Homo sapiens: one gene and its partners. The protein of the gene in region 1 interacts with the protein of each later gene in a pairwise test. Each region holds a gene or a part of one and is shown in the gene's direction. Other genes may lie near its edges.

Evidence for each region.
Region 2: the proteins of PTS (region 1) and FXR2 interact in binary tests that used the Homo sapiens proteins (3 or more experiments, as listed by UniProt).
Region 3: the proteins of PTS (region 1) and NTAQ1 interact in binary tests that used the Homo sapiens proteins (3 or more experiments, as listed by UniProt).
Region 4: the proteins of PTS (region 1) and CDK16 interact in a two-hybrid assay, tested with the Homo sapiens proteins (one study listed by IntAct).

What each region holds. Positions count from the first base shown.
Region 1 is NC_000011.10:112,231,672-112,234,672, forward strand, and holds the end of PTS (6-pyruvoyl tetrahydrobiopterin synthase), read left to right. Parts: intron 1-1,491; coding exon 1,492-1,562; intron 1,563-1,760; coding exon 1,761-1,884; 3' UTR 1,885-2,302; downstream 2,303-3,001. UniProt on the Homo sapiens protein: Involved in the biosynthesis of tetrahydrobiopterin, an essential cofactor of aromatic amino acid hydroxylases. Catalyzes the transformation of 7,8-dihydroneopterin triphosphate into 6-pyruvoyl tetrahydropterin.
Region 2 is NC_000017.11:7,590,653-7,594,630, reverse strand, and holds the end of FXR2 (RNA-binding protein FXR2), read left to right. Parts: intron 1-283; coding exon 284-393; intron 394-626; coding exon 627-713; intron 714-1,005; coding exon 1,006-1,228; intron 1,229-1,449; coding exon 1,450-1,647; intron 1,648-1,736; coding exon 1,737-1,937; intron 1,938-2,031; coding exon 2,032-2,127; intron 2,128-2,276; coding exon 2,277-2,377; intron 2,378-2,473; coding exon of another isoform or gene 2,474-2,509; exon of another isoform or gene 2,510-2,565; intron 2,566-2,705; coding exon 2,706-2,801; 3' UTR 2,802-3,401; downstream 3,402-3,978. UniProt on the Homo sapiens protein: mRNA-binding protein that acts as a regulator of mRNAs translation and/or stability, and which is required for adult hippocampal neurogenesis. Specifically binds to AU-rich elements (AREs) in the 3'-UTR of target mRNAs.
Region 3 is NC_000008.11:123,436,965-123,440,942, forward strand, and holds part of NTAQ1 (protein N-terminal glutamine amidohydrolase), read left to right. Parts: intron 1-245; coding exon 246-370; intron 371-1,169; coding exon of another isoform or gene 1,170-1,252; exon of another isoform or gene 1,253-1,365; intron 1,366-3,978. UniProt on the Homo sapiens protein: Mediates the side-chain deamidation of N-terminal glutamine residues to glutamate, an important step in N-end rule pathway of protein degradation.
Region 4 is NC_000023.11:47,221,203-47,225,180, forward strand, and holds part of CDK16 (cyclin-dependent kinase 16), read left to right. Parts: exon of another isoform or gene 1-1,058; coding exon of another isoform or gene 1,059-1,140; exon of another isoform or gene 1,141-1,178; intron 1,179-1,848; exon of another isoform or gene 1,849-1,893; coding exon of another isoform or gene 1,894-2,109; intron 2,110-2,349; coding exon of another isoform or gene 2,350-2,355; coding exon 2,356-2,557; intron 2,558-3,182; coding exon 3,183-3,316; intron 3,317-3,415; coding exon 3,416-3,541; intron 3,542-3,631; coding exon 3,632-3,688; intron 3,689-3,785; coding exon 3,786-3,900; intron 3,901-3,978. UniProt on the Homo sapiens protein: Protein kinase that plays a role in vesicle-mediated transport processes and exocytosis. Regulates GH1 release by brain neurons. Phosphorylates NSF, and thereby regulates NSF oligomerization. Required for normal spermatogenesis.

The sequences.
Region 1 (3,001 bases):
TGAATGAGATGTAGCCCACAGAGTGTATACATTACTTTTTCTAGGAGGTGAAGAATATTATTAAATAACTGTTGATTTAATAAATGAGTAGAAGAATGAGTGAATGAAGAAACAGCACTATGCTCAAAATACTTTAGGAAAGTTATACAGATAGGGCCAGCATGCATTTATGGGGCAGGGGTTGGGGGGCAGGCGGAGAGAGAGAGAGAGGGAGACAGAGACAGGAGAAGAGGAGGGGGAGGGGAGGACAGGGGAGGAGAGGGGAGGGGAAAGAAAGAAAAAGAAAAAGAGAAAAGAAAAGAAAAGAAAGAAAAGAGACAAGACAGCAACATAAAAGGCCTCAACATATGACTAAATACTGGAGGAGGGCTTCTCTATGCTGTTTTCTGCTTTTGTATGCCTGAAGGACACCACACACTTTCATCAGTAAAAGTGGCTTATCATGGCATGTAGAGTAAAGTTAGAGCTCTACCGTGGGGGGAGGATTGCTTGAGTCCAGGAGTTCAAGGCTGCAGTGAGCTATGATTATGCCACTTGCACTCCAGCCTGGATGACAGAGACCCTGTCTCTAAAAACAAAACAAAAGAAAACAAAAAGCCCTGCATAAGAGGCTTTAATGGAGAAATTGGGACTGGAACTGGGATTGAAGATGAAGCAAGGATGCCCGTTTTCTTGTTATTCATGTGGAACATCCCTTCATTGGATATATTTCAATAACTGTTTGATCTAGGACTTACTCTTTTTGTATGATTCTAGTTTTTCTCAAGAAATGATTGCTGTTACTGTTATTAATGTACCCTTCTTCAAACTACGTCCTATGGAAAATTACATTTTTTTTTCACAGATGCTTAGATTTTTTGCAATAGCTAAAAGCAAAAACCTAGAAAGAATGAGGCAATTTAATCCTTGCTGATGATGAGGAAAAACATTATGTTAATATACACGAGCATTAGGGAGTAATAGTCTTTACATATATATATTTTTCCTTCTATGAGCCCAAGATCATTCTTAAATTATTCCTCATAGCAAAAATTTAGAACTACTTACATAATTTCAGTCTAGGTCTGCTTTATAAAATGTAGTAGTCACTGGATCTTTGTCCTTATGATATTGTGGCATTGTTCCGTAGGTGTGACAGTGTTATGGAAAAATATTTGTGCTAACTGTTTGGACAGGATTCACAAAGTGTTAAACTGAATTCTGAATTACAATGGCTTGTGTTGCGAGAAAGCTCCAGGAATTCTCTGCTTTTTGGTTTCTCACCTCTTTTTATTCAGTAACAAGGATTCCTAATCATTACCGACAGCTGGGCCTGACTTTATTTTACAACTTGAAATTTTGTAAAGTTGCCTTGTAAGACTCAAATCTAGTACTTACAAATATTTAGTTAGTGGCTAAGTGATAAGGTGAGGTTTAGAGGCATAAGTGGAACAATTTGGAATTTGAGTCGTAAATGGAGTCAATGATATTTTCCCTTGGTTTTGTCTCTAGGAGGCGATTATGCAGCCCCTTGATCATAAGAATCTGGATATGGATGTGCCATACTTTGCAGATGTGGTGAGGTGGGTGGCACTGTATCTTGCCTTATGTGGATTGTAAAACAAGAATTGATTTGAATACTTTGATTGTTGTGTGATTTCTGAAGTTTTAATTTAATGAAATCTTTCGAAACTAGAATTTCTATTTTCTGTAAATATTAAACATGAAATTTTATTGTTTGCATTTTGAATTTTTTTTGTTTTTGTTTTTTTTTCTTATAGCACGACTGAAAATGTAGCTGTTTATATCTGGGACAACCTCCAGAAAGTTCTTCCTGTAGGAGTTCTTTATAAAGTAAAAGTATACGAAACTGACAATAATATTGTGGTTTATAAAGGAGAATAGCTATTGGGGTTAGCATTGCACAAAGCCCAGTTTCTTTCTGTGTTTGAAAAAGATTTTGATCCCCTTGGAATATTAAGAGGTCAACACGTGATTGTTGTACGTACACATTGTGCTCTGGAGTGCCTATTTATTGAAATCATTGTAAGACCTGTTATAAATTTAAGTCTATTTAAAACTAAACTTGTAATATACATCCTGAAAATCATTTAGAGAGTCTTTTATTTATAAATTAAAAATCACTTCATTTTCACAAAATGTTTTGGTGTGGGATTATTTGAAAGCAAAAGAAATCTAATTTTGTTTTCTCCATTACCTCATTTTAGTATTAATTTTTACTTGGTATAATATACATGGTTAAAATGCTTATGTGACTTCGAGTAGGTGAATCTTAAAGAAATAAAATTCAAGTGACCACAAAGTCTGGAGACAATATATATATGTATATTTAATAGATTGAACTCTCTTGATTACTACTTGTTGGGTGTGCTGAAGGCATAAGTGGATTCAGTGAAAATTAGACACACAAATCATGTGAGGCATCTGTTGTGGATACACGTACAAATATTGATGGAAATGCTGCTTTAGAGCACATCATTCATTACAATTTTGCACAGCGTATTGAACTATGAATTGCTAGTGAGGAACAACACATTAAACATATCATGGAATATCAGTAAATTATTCAGTATACTCCTCTGAATTTCTGAACCTGATGGGCACTTGAATAATTTCAACTCAGAAGACTGCAGAATAATCATATTTTAAACTCTAAAAAATAGTCAGCATAAAAAGGATCAACTACCATATAAAATATTTCCTGTATATAGTTTTTCCTAATTGATCCCATTTTGTTCTGATTATTAAACTTACTATATGCTTGGCATTCTTCTCTGGGATCTTTTCCTCGTGACTAAATCCACAAGAAAGTATTTGCTTACTTTGCACGGAAGACTGTTCTGTGTTCTTGTTTGTTTTCTAAATGTCTTAAACGCAGGGTTCTGATTTTCTCTCCACATAGCAACTAGTATACAATGAATTCCCAGAATGTTGTTGCCTGAAAATAGTAAAAGGACTTTTGCAGTGATTACTATTCTAGAAAAACTTGCAAAGAATAGTC
Region 2 (3,978 bases), on another chromosome or scaffold:
CTACAGTGATTCTGAGCTTTTATCCAGGATTGGCACCTCCCTGTGGACTCCCAGTTTCACAAGGACAGAGAAACAGTCTGTAATGGGAGTGATAAAAATGAAAGAATAAATTTCTAGGGATTGTAACATTTTGTCCTGTAAAAACACATCAGAAACCTAGAAGCAGGAGAATGAAGTAAATGGAATCCATATAAAGAAAATGAGGCTGGAAGACGGTGTATCAGCTTTATTCTTATTTCCTTAAAAAAAATAAAAGGCTGAATTCCTCATTTACCTATTCCAGGCAAAGTGATTGGAAAGAACGGGAAAGTGATCCAGGAGATTGTGGATAAATCTGGTGTGGTGAGGGTTCGAGTGGAAGGTGATAATGACAAGAAGAACCCCAGGGAGGAGGTATGGGTACGGGGCAAGTGGGCATAGAGATTGGTTTCCAGAAGTAAATGGGATTGTCCTCTGAGGGCTGGGATTGTTCTTTGAGAGGGTGGAGTACGGAAAGTTGTTTAACACTAGTAGATTTAGAGCCCAGAATGATCCCACTGGGCAGGCTCCCCTAGGAGACTGGGCGGCGTTAATCCTTCCATTTCATTTTCCTTTCTGATCCATCGTTTCTGCTCTCTGTTCTCTAGGGAATGGTTCCCTTCATTTTTGTTGGCACCCGAGAGAACATCAGCAATGCCCAGGCTTTGCTGGAGTATCACCTCTCCTACCTGCAGGTACCCAGGCCGGGAGAGAAAAATGCTGGGTGTGAAAAGGGAACTAAGACTGCTGTGGGGGTCAGCTCAGGGATTTTGGTTCTCTGTTTGTCTCTCCGTGTAGAACAGAAAACATCTGTGGAAATTTGGGGCTATAGGGTTGGGTCCCAGAATTTTCCTTGTTTAGCCAGTGTCTTCCTTCTCCCTGCATTCCTGAGAGGTTAGATATAGAGGGACAGTCAGGGTGCAGAAGCATGAAGCAAGGCACTGATCTTATTTCTCCTTCCCCTTCTTCCATCTTTTACCCAACCAGGAGGTAGAGCAGCTTCGCTTGGAGAGGCTACAAATTGATGAGCAGCTTCGGCAGATTGGGCTGGGCTTTCGCCCTCCTGGGAGTGGGCGGGGCAGCGGTGGCAGCGACAAGGCTGGATATAGCACTGATGAGAGCTCCTCCTCCTCCCTCCATGCGACTCGAACCTATGGGGGCAGCTATGGGGGCCGTGGCCGTGGCCGGAGGACAGGCGGTCCTGCCTATGGTGAGACAGTTATGGGAACAGGAGGCAAGGAGTGGCAGGGCTTGTGGGTAGAGGCAGAGGTCTGGATGGAAGTTTGGGGAAATCTGGAATGGAGATGATGAAAAAGTGATTGATTGGCTGGGAGGCTTGTGAGTGAGAAGGAGAATTCTTCCAGTTTGGGGGATGTGATGGATCCTGAGGTGGGATGAATGGCCGTGAATAAATCCCATTGTGTTCTTCAGGCCCCAGCTCAGATGTGTCTACAGCTTCAGAGACTGAGTCAGAGAAGAGAGAGGAGCCCAACCGAGCTGGGCCTGGCGACAGGGATCCCCCAACCCGAGGGGAAGAAAGCCGGAGGCGGCCGACTGGGGGCCGGGGTAGGGGACCCCCACCTGCCCCCCGGCCCACTTCGAGATACAATTCTTCATCTATTAGCTCAGGTACCAGACAGCTGGGTTCATGAATATGGGCCAAAAGGAAAGATGATGGGCACCTGACTGCCAACTCCTCCTCTTCTTCCTCTGACCAGTGCTGAAGGATCCAGACAGTAATCCCTACAGCCTATTGGACACGTCTGAACCAGAGCCCCCGGTTGATTCAGAACCTGGGGAACCCCCCCCAGCAAGTGCCAGGCGCCGCCGCTCCCGCCGCCGCCGCACTGATGAAGACAGGACCGTCATGGATGGAGGCCTGGAATCAGATGGGCCCAACATGACAGAGAATGGCCTGGGTGAGGGTGTGCCTGGGGTCTGGAAAGTTAGAGATGGGTAGGAATCGAGGGTGGGAGGTTGGATGTGTGACTCTGGTTTTTTCCTACCCTACAGAAGATGAATCAAGACCTCAACGTCGTAATCGCAGCCGCCGCCGCCGTAACCGTGGTAATCGGACTGATGGCTCTATCAGTGGAGACCGCCAGCCAGGTCAGCCAACTCTGGACACCAGAATCCTTCCTCAGAGCTGAGAGAATGGGATGCTCACCCCTGTGAAAATCAGGGGTTCGGGTTCAGTGGGTGTCTTAGGCTGGCTACCAGAATTCCATCTGAAAGTCTTAATCTCCTGCCTTCCCCAGTGACTGTGGCTGACTATATCTCACGAGCAGAGTCTCAGAGCCGCCAGAGGCCACCCCTGGAACGCACTAAACCCTCAGAAGACTCTCTTTCAGGACAGAAGGTAGGCAGGCAAGATGTGCTTTACCCCATCCCTTTTTTGTTGTTACTCTGGGGCAGGGGGCACAAAAAATTTCACAAATCTCCTACTGAATTGCAGAGGCAGCTGTGTCTGATGGAGTTTAGACCAGTGTAAACTTTGAATAGGATAGAGAAGAAAGTGTGGTTCACATTTTCTGGATCCCAAGTAAGAGAGACTGGATCATGAGATCAGGGAACCAACCTCTGGATCACCAAATGCCAGGAGGGCTTGGATGGTAGGGAATGTCTCCCACCTGAATTTCTACTCACCGCTTCTTGCTTTTCTGTTTTCTTTCCCACTTTCCCCTCAGGGTGACTCTGTCAGCAAGCTTCCTAAGGGCCCCTCGGAGAATGGGGAGCTCTCCGCCCCCTTGGAGTTGGGTAGTATGGTGAATGGGGTTTCATAAAACCTCCAACCTGCACCCCTCCCTTCTCCATCTCGCTTGCTGCCCAACACCATGGCCCTCACAGGCCCAACTGACCTGCGCTGGAGCTGCTCTTATCTAGGGGGGAGGGGGGTGGCACAGCAGCTTGGGTACCCCCCAACCTCCAGGAGCTAGTGGAGGGGTGTGTAACAGGGTCATACCCCCTCCCTCTTGTCCACCCTACCCCCAGGGTAAGGGGAGCCTCTCTCCTTCCCCATCAGACTGGATGTGCCTTTATCCTCTAATGCCCCAATCTCTCTCTGAACACCCCCATTCTCCACCTGTTGGTGGGGGGTGCTCCTCGACCCACCCAGATTTGACCGTTCAGGGGGCCTCCCCTGCTATCCCTCCTCCCATCCTGTACCCCCCATTTCTGGGGCCTCATCACTGTGGAAGACGGGGATAGTAAGAGATAAGTGGGTGGGAGGCACGGGGAAGGTTTTGGAGTAGAACCAGGGGTGTGTATGAAGGGGGGTGACAAGGTCCCCCTGGGGAGGGGACCAACCTTGTCTGGTGGATGAGAAGGCGTATTTATTTTTCACTGTACAGTATTTAAAAAGAGAATAAAAAAATCCAAATGGCTGTCTGGCTCCTGTGCCTTCTTTGTCCCCAGTTTGGTCCATTTGTTTCTCTAGGACTGACCTGCCCTGGCCCCTGGCTCTTGTTTTCTGTTCCTCCACATCTGACTTCTCTTCATTGTCTCTTGTCCCAAAGATGGTCTTACTTCTGGGAATTCCTGACATTCCTAAACTCCCCAGGCCCAGGTTCTCCCTCCTGGTTCAGAGGAGGGGGGCTTGTGCCTTGTTGCTTCTCCCCTCCCCCAAGTTTGCTGGTAGAGGGAGTTGGGCCACTCCTATACCCTGAGTCACAGCACAGGCTAGGCAGGGCTGCTCAGAGCTGGAGCTGTTCCTGTAGAAGCTGAGAGCCAAGGCAGGCTGCTTAATCCGATTACCTGAGGCCTGGGGCTTGGGCTGGGCCGTTGGGCAGAGTGGGGAGCAGGGTTCCCTCACAGCAGCCTCTGGAGCCCGGGGTCCGGCCTTCTTGGTGGTGTTCTGTTCTGGCTCCAGGCTTTTTCTCCGGCATGCGCATCACAGACCTCTTAACTTGGGGAGTTGTCCTGGGTTTCCTGGCTCCCCCCTCATGACTTGGACGACTGAAG
Region 3 (3,978 bases), on another chromosome or scaffold:
GATACACAAATCGAGTAAATCGAGGCAACCAGATATATTTTTGTGCCTTTGCCTTTCTGTTTCGGGGTTTGGTTGATCATTTCCTATGCTTCTCTAATAGGTAGTAAAGTTGCCTGTATTACTAACCATACAGAAATGCATGAGTAGTTTTGTGCATGTCATAGGAAATGAGTCGATATAAAAATGGAGTTAGAATTTCAAACATGACATCTCCCTAATGTGAGTGTATATTGATTTTTCTGCAGGAAATTTAGAGTGATCCGTGCAGATTCATATTTGAAGAACTTTGCTTCTGACCGATCTCACATGAAAGACTCCAGTGGGAATTGGAGAGAGCCTCCGCCGCCATATCCCTGCATTGAGACTGGAGGTGAGCCAAGATGCCTTCTCAGATGGGGGTTCTGATTGATCACATACACATCAGCATTTTTCCTTAACGGAGGACAAAAGTCAGGTTGTTCTTTGAATAAAACTCCATGAGTGAATCCCAGCACTTTGGGAGGCCGAGGTGGGCGGATCACGAGGTCAGGAGATAGACACCATCCTGGCTAACACGGTGAAACCCTGTCTCTACTAAAAATACAAAAAATTAGCCAGGTGTGGTGACAGGCACCTGTAGTCCCAGCTACTAGGGAGGCTGAGGCAGGAGAATGGTGCGAACCTGGGAGGCAGAGCTTGCAGTGAGCTGAGATCGGGCCACTGCATTCCAGCCTGGGTGACAGAGTGAGACTCCATCTCAAAAAAAAAAAAAAACAAAAAACAAAAAACAAAAAATTCCATGAATGATAAGGAGGTCATAGGAAATACTACTTCTGTGTGTGTATTAGATTCAGAAATGAAGGCACAGAGAATAGGACTGGAAGGCATAAGAACATGTGGGAGAGGAAGGGTGTTAAGGATCAGAACCAGGGCACCTGCAAACTGCTGGATTATTGGATGTAGCTACTGCGGGGACACTGAACATCAGGATACTCGCATGCTTGTGTCATTTAACAGCGGGACTAGTAGCACCTTGCCATGGTAGGGTTTTGTGCTGTGGTGAAAGAAATCCCCATTGCATCCTTATGATGTGTGAAATGTCACTTTGGCTATATAATAAAATCTGCATTAGAGGGAGGTGAGCGCTAGCAGGTTTTATTGTACCACTTGTCTCATTTATGTGCTTTTAGGCATCAATCCAGTTGATAATTTCCTGACATTTAAGAAGATAAAGGGTCCTTCACCCTATTACTATTGTTTGGCATTCATATGAGTTTGAAGTATTATTTACGTTTGTAAGTAATTCACAACATTCCCACTTAGGGGTGAGATCATCCCAACACCTGGATAATACAGTCTGTGTGAAAGTGCTCTGTGAGCTCTGCAGCATGTCAGAAAAATAGGGCAGTAGTGTTAGTACTTCAACAAGGGTCTGAGCGTGGTGGCTTATGCCTGTAATCCCAGCACTTTGGGAGGCTGAGGTGGGTGGACCACCTGAGGTCAGGAGTTCGAGACTAGCCTGACCAATGTGGTGAAACTCCGTCTCTACTAAAAATACAAAAATTAGCCGGGTGTGGTGGTGTGTGCCTGAAGTCCCAGCTCCTTGGGAGACTGAGACAGGAGAATTACTTGAACCGGGTAATTGCTTGAACCGGGAGGCAGAGGTTGCAGTGAGCCGAGATCGCACCACTGCACTCCAGCCTGAGTGACAAGAGCAAGATTCCATCTCAAAAAAAAAAAAAGAAAAAGAAAAAAATAGTTTAACGGAAGAAAGTAAAATATACATTTGGCATATTTGAGGGGACTGAACACTAAGAGAGGGTTCAAACTCTGATTTTTGAGGCTCTCTATGAAAAGCTCTCATAATTTAAAAAATTATATTGGAATTGCTTATCAGTACACAGAGCTGCTTCCTGGCCTCAGTGTGAGAACTGGGGAAGCTCCCTGGTAAGGAGAGGGCTCGAGGGGTCTGCCTTAGCATCTATGGCAACCTGCTCTACAGGGCCTGGTCTGGCCACAGTGTGCCTTTAGCAGCTACCTGTTTCCCCTTGAGATGTGAGCACCTAAGACAGAACCTAGTGCATCGCAGGCATTTAGTGAACCCCTTGTCAGCCCTGGTCCAACTGGGGCAATTCCTTTTGTTTTGATGACTACTAGTCATTGGATGCTGTTTTGTGCTGGGCTTTTGCCAGCCCAATTACTATATGGGCTGCCGAGGTGAGCACTGCCAGCCCAATTTTCTTTCTTTCTTTTTTTTTTGTTGAGACTCTTGTTGCCCAGGCTGGAGTGCAGTGGCACGATCCCAGCTCACTGCAACCTCCATCTCCTGAGTTCAAGCAATTTTCATGCCTCAGCCTCTGGATTAGTTGGGATTACAGGCATACACCATCACACCTGGCTAGTTTTTTTTTTTTTTTGAGACGGAGTCTCACTCTGTCACCCACGCTGGAGTGCAGTGGTGCGATGTCAGCTCACTGCAAGCTCCGCCTCCCGGGTTCATGCCATTCTCCTGCCTCAGCCTCCTGAGTAGCTGGGACTACAGGCGCCCGCCACCACACCCGGCTAATTTTTTTTTTGTATTTTTAGTAGAGATGGGGTCTTACCGTGTTAGCCAGGATGGTCTCGATCTCCTGACCTCGTGATCTGCCCGCCTCGGCCTCCCAAAGTGCTGGGATTACAGGCGTGAGCCACCGCGCCGGCCACACCTGGTTAGTTTTTATATTTTTAGTAGACATGAGGTTTTGCCATGTGGGCTAGGCTGGTCTTGAACTCTTGGCCTCAGGTGATCCTTCTGCCTTGGCCTCCCAAAGTGCTGGGATTACAGGGGTGAGCCACTGTGCCTGGCCCATATTAACCAAAAATTAGCCAGGCGTGGTGGTGCACGCCTGTAATCCCAGCTACTCAGGAGGCTGAGGCAGGAGAATTGCTTGAATCTGGGAGGTGGAGGTCGCAATGAGCCAAAATTGCACCACTGCACTCTAGCCTGGGTGACAGAGGGAGACTCTGTCTCAAAAAAAAGAAAACAGACTTTAAATTAATGCATGTTTTAGATACATGCATTATTGGGTATGTTGGATTTAGTTATGGAATTGACTCTTTTTTTTTTTTAATCAAGGTAGGGTCTCAGTATATTGCTCCTACCTTGGCCTCCCAAAATACTGAGATTATAGGCATGAGCCACCACGCTGGCCAGGATTAACTCCTTTTTTTTTTTTTTTTTTTTTTTTTTTGAGACGGAGTCTTGCTCTATTGCCCAGGCTGGAGTGCAGTGGCACAATCTTGGCTTGCTACAACCTCTGCCTCCTGGATTCAAGCGATTCTCCTGCCTCAGCCTCCCAAGTAGCTTGGATTCTAGGCACCCACTACCACACCTGGCTAGTTTTTGTATTTTTAGTAGAGACGGGGTTTCACCACGTTGGCCAGGCTGGTCTCGAACTCCTGACCTCAAGTGATCCACCCCTCTTAGCTTCCCAAAGTGCTGGGATTATAGGCGTGAGCCACCACGCCTGGCTGCTTTTCGTCTTTCTGAGTAAAGGTTGAGAGTAGCGTTCCTTTCTTCTTTTTTTTTTTTTTTTAGACAAAGCCTTGCTCTGTTGCCCAGGCTGGAGTGAAGTGGCGTGATCTTGGCTCATTACACCCTCCAACTCCCAGGTTCAAGCAATTCTCCTGTCTCAGCCTCCTAAGTAGCTGGAATTAGAGAGGTGTGCCACCATACCCAGCTAATTTTTGTATTTTTAGTAGAGATGGGGTTTCACCATGTTGGCCAGGCTGTTCTCTTAACTTCTGACCTCAAGTGATCTGCCCACCTCGGCCTCCCAAAGTGCTGGGATTACAGGTGTGAGCCAACATGCTTGGCTCAGAGCAGCCTTTCATCGAGGGCTAATTTAGCCCCCCTACTCTGACATGACCCTTCTGAGGACGCTACTGAACGCTGCATGTTACGAGTTCTCTCCACTCTGGCTGGTGGTGACATGAATTATTTCTAGCCCTGTGGAAGTT
Region 4 (3,978 bases), on another chromosome or scaffold:
TCTGAGGATGGGTGTATGTCTTTGGGGATCAGGAAGGGTCAGGCAGGACATGTGCCTTTTTTGGGGTAAGGTTTTATGTCCAGTTTCTTGCTCCCTCCTTTTTTGAAATCTAAAAAGCTCATTCAACTGAAATGATATTTAAAAGTTTCCTTGCGTATAAATGTTCAATTATCTCTGTTCACAGGGGCATGTCTGAGACCCCCATCCCCCTTTCTGGGAGTGTTATGTGATATACAGATTTTACACCCCATCTTCCTAAAATCCCAAAAAACTGAACTCCAGAGCATGTCCAGCCCTTGGGGTTTCCAGTTAGAGGTCGTGGACCCATGGCTCCTCCTGGCTTCCTCCCCATCCTCCATTCAGCCCTACTTCCAGTCTCCCCCAGCCCCTCCCCTACTCCCTGTCACAACATGCAAAGCAACTGGGTATCTGTGCCATATGGGGACACAAGGTTGTCTTTGGGAGCTGGCCATGCTTTACCTTCCTTGCCTTAGGCCCAGTATTCAGCCTCCCAGGTCAGGATGTTTTGTGGTTATCCTGGGTTCTCCATGGATGGACCTCATCCTGTATCTGAGGTCTTTCTGCTAGGGTGGCCCCTACCCCTCCTGGGGATAGTGAGTTCAGCCAGGTGGGGGCGAGAACTGCTGGGGGAAGCACCTGATTTCAAGGTAGCAGATGACCCATTTCTCTCCTCAAATCCAGCCCCAGTCTCATCCTCGACCTCCTATCTAGCTCTACTTCCCTTGGGCCCAGGGCCATCTTAGGCCCTGCTGTGAGTCCAGATGGTTCCTGGGTCAGGTCTTTCCCCCTCCTTGCTGGCCCAGAGCCCAAGAGGAAGCAGAAGACGGCTGGCCTAAGCCTTTTGGTGGCCCCATTCCCTTCAGCAATCCATCTAGGTCATCTTCCTGTCGATGCCAGCATCCCTGGGCTACCTTGTTTAGGGTTGTTCAATGAATAGCAGGGACTCATCACCTCAGCAGAGGTTGGTCCTAGGCCCTCAGCCCCCTGATTCACTTATTTCTGCCATAAGCACTTTTTGAGCATCTACTCTGTGTCAGTCACTATTCCAGGTCCTCAGGATATAGCCGTGACCTAAACACAGAAATCTACCCTGGCGGAGCTGATCTTCTAGTTGTGGCGGTGAGGAGATAGACAGTAAAGACTAAAGAAACCAATAAGTAGGTGGTGTCATTTCTGAGGAGGTAATGAGTGCTGGGGGGATAACTGGCAAGGTGAGGGAGTTCGGGATGGTTGAGATTTTAAATAGGGTTATTCACAGAGGCCTCATGAAAAAGGTGACCTTTGAGCAATGGCCCAAAGGGAGAGGGGAGTGAGCCATTTCGAAATTTAGGGGAAGGGTGTTCCAGGTACCAGGAACAGCCAGTGTAAAGGCCCCGAGGTGGGACTCTACTGGGTGTGGTTGCAGAACAGCAACTAGGAATGATGGCGGGGGGGTGTGGGGGTGGGGGGGGGCCGTGGGCAAGAGGCAATAGGGGCAAATGAGGTAAAGAAACACCTGTGGGCCACATTGAGGACTGGGGCGTGTATTTGGGGTGATGAAAAATGTACATTCTTGAGTAGAGGAGAAATGTGACTTGGCTTGTAAAAGTCTAGATTGGACCCTAGGGGTCCTAACCTGATCAAACCGTTCTGGCAGCCCTGAGAAGAGCTGGTGTACACTGAGACCCCCCCGCCCTCCACACAATCCCACCCAGTGGTTGGGTCTGGGCAGGACACCCTGACACACGCTCCCCTCCCCCCCCCCACCTGGGTAGATGAATGGGATGATGCAGTGGTTGTCATGACGATGAGTGCTAGAGAAGTCAGGAAGAGGGTCCCTGTGGCCACAGGGAATAGTCTGCCTTGGCCTTTGAGGGTGGTGCTAGGGGAACTATGCCACTCTATGGCCGTGCTCGAGACCATGTCACCCATCCTTCAATTCTGGGCACACGCCCTGGCCGACCCATGGCTGGGCCCATCACTGCAGCTGTACCTGAGAAGATCTGCAATGGAGCCTTCTGCTCCTGCAGTGGGGCTTTTCCCCTAGATCCCAACAATCCATCGTTAGGGCCCTTGCCCTCAATCAGCCACCTAAATCTGAGAACTCAGGTGGGCTACGTAGGAGCAGGGTCCCAGTGGGGCTGGCTGTGTGGGTGGGCAGGTACTGACAAAGATCCCCATCCATGCTGGGTTTCCAGAACTCCTGAGTGGCTCTGGGGTCCATAGTGGTTGAGTGAGCACTGACAAGTTCATGTCAGTGCCCCCTGCTAGGCTGTGGGCTTTAGGGAACCCATGGTGATCAAGCAAATGCTAATAAGAGACCCATTTCCATCCTTGTCCCTTGCTCAGATCGCCATGGATCGGATGAAGAAGATCAAACGGCAGCTGTCAATGACACTCCGAGGTGGCCGAGGCATAGACAAGACCAATGGTGCCCCTGAGCAGATAGGCCTGGATGAGAGTGGTGGTGGTGGCGGCAGTGACCCTGGAGAGGCCCCCACACGTGCTGCTCCTGGGGAACTTCGTTCTGCACGGGGCCCACTCAGCTCTGCACCAGGTGGGTCCACTGGCTATCCCCTCTCCCATATGGCCCCAGGCTGCTTCCCAGGTGTTGCCTCCTGGTCACATTCCTCATTTTCCTCTAAATTTTCTGCCCTTTCTCTGCCCCCCATGTGCTCTCTTCTCCCCCTTCCCTCCCATCTTCTCTCAACACCGTCTGTCTATCTGTCCATCTGCGCTCCTCTTCTTGCCTTTCTGCCCAGGCCCCGTGGTGGGGGACAGAAGGTGCCTTGCCTGTCACAGCTGCCCCAAGGCTCCCTCTGCCCTTCTGCCCTCTATGATGGCCTCCTCAGTCCTCTGGTACCTGCCTGCCCTGGGCCTGCCTTCCCAGGACCCTTGGCTTCCCCTGCCACCACCTAGCTGCCGGCTCTGAGCTCAGCTTGCCCTTGGAAGGAAGGGTTCCACTAGGTGACTTTTGCTTCCCCACCCCCCAGTTCAACCTGCCCTAGATGTACCTGAGCTTCCCTGGGCTCAGGTACATCACCCTCTCCCCGAGGGACTCCAGGTTTCCTGTGGGGGCCACGTGCACACATGTGTGATGATGGAATATGTTTCGTGGGGGATGGGGTGTCCTGTGGTTCCTGACCCCACCTGGCCTGCCCTACCCCTCTCCCTGCCACCAGAGATTGTGCACGAGGACTTGAAGATGGGGTCTGATGGGGAGAGTGACCAGGCTTCAGCCACGTCCTCGGATGAGGTGCAGTCTCCAGTGAGAGTGCGTATGCGCAACCATCCCCCACGCAAGATCTCCACTGAGGTGCTTGACCCCGTCTGGATGGTGGAGGAACTGGAAAAGGGGGTTGGACCTGGGGAGGTGGAGCTCATGATCCTGTTTCTCTCTTGCCTTACCTGCTAGGACATCAACAAGCGCCTATCACTACCAGCTGACATCCGGCTGCCTGAGGGCTACCTGGAGAAGCTGACCCTCAATAGCCCCATCTTTGACAAGCCCCTCAGCCGCCGCCTCCGTCGTGTCAGCCTAGTAAGCACCTTCTGTTCCCGTCCTCTCCTTTTTCTTCTCTCCCAGACCCTTCTCCTGAGCCAGCTTTAACCTGCCTCATTTGTCCCACAGTCTGAGATTGGCTTTGGGAAACTGGAGACCTACATTAAGCTGGACAAACTGGGCGAGGTGAGAGGCAAATAGGAGGCCCATGGTGGGGATGAAGGTCAGTGGGAACTCCTGGAATCTCATAGCACCTCTCCTGTCACACTTCCTCACATTCCAGGGTACCTATGCCACCGTCTACAAAGGCAAAAGCAAGCTCACAGACAACCTTGTGGCACTCAAGGAGATCAGACTGGAACATGAAGAGGGGGCACCCTGCACCGCCATCCGGGAAGGTACACACCCCCATCCCATCTGCCCCAGGCTTCCCCAACCCACCCCTGGCGCACACACTCCATAATGAGAACAAAGAC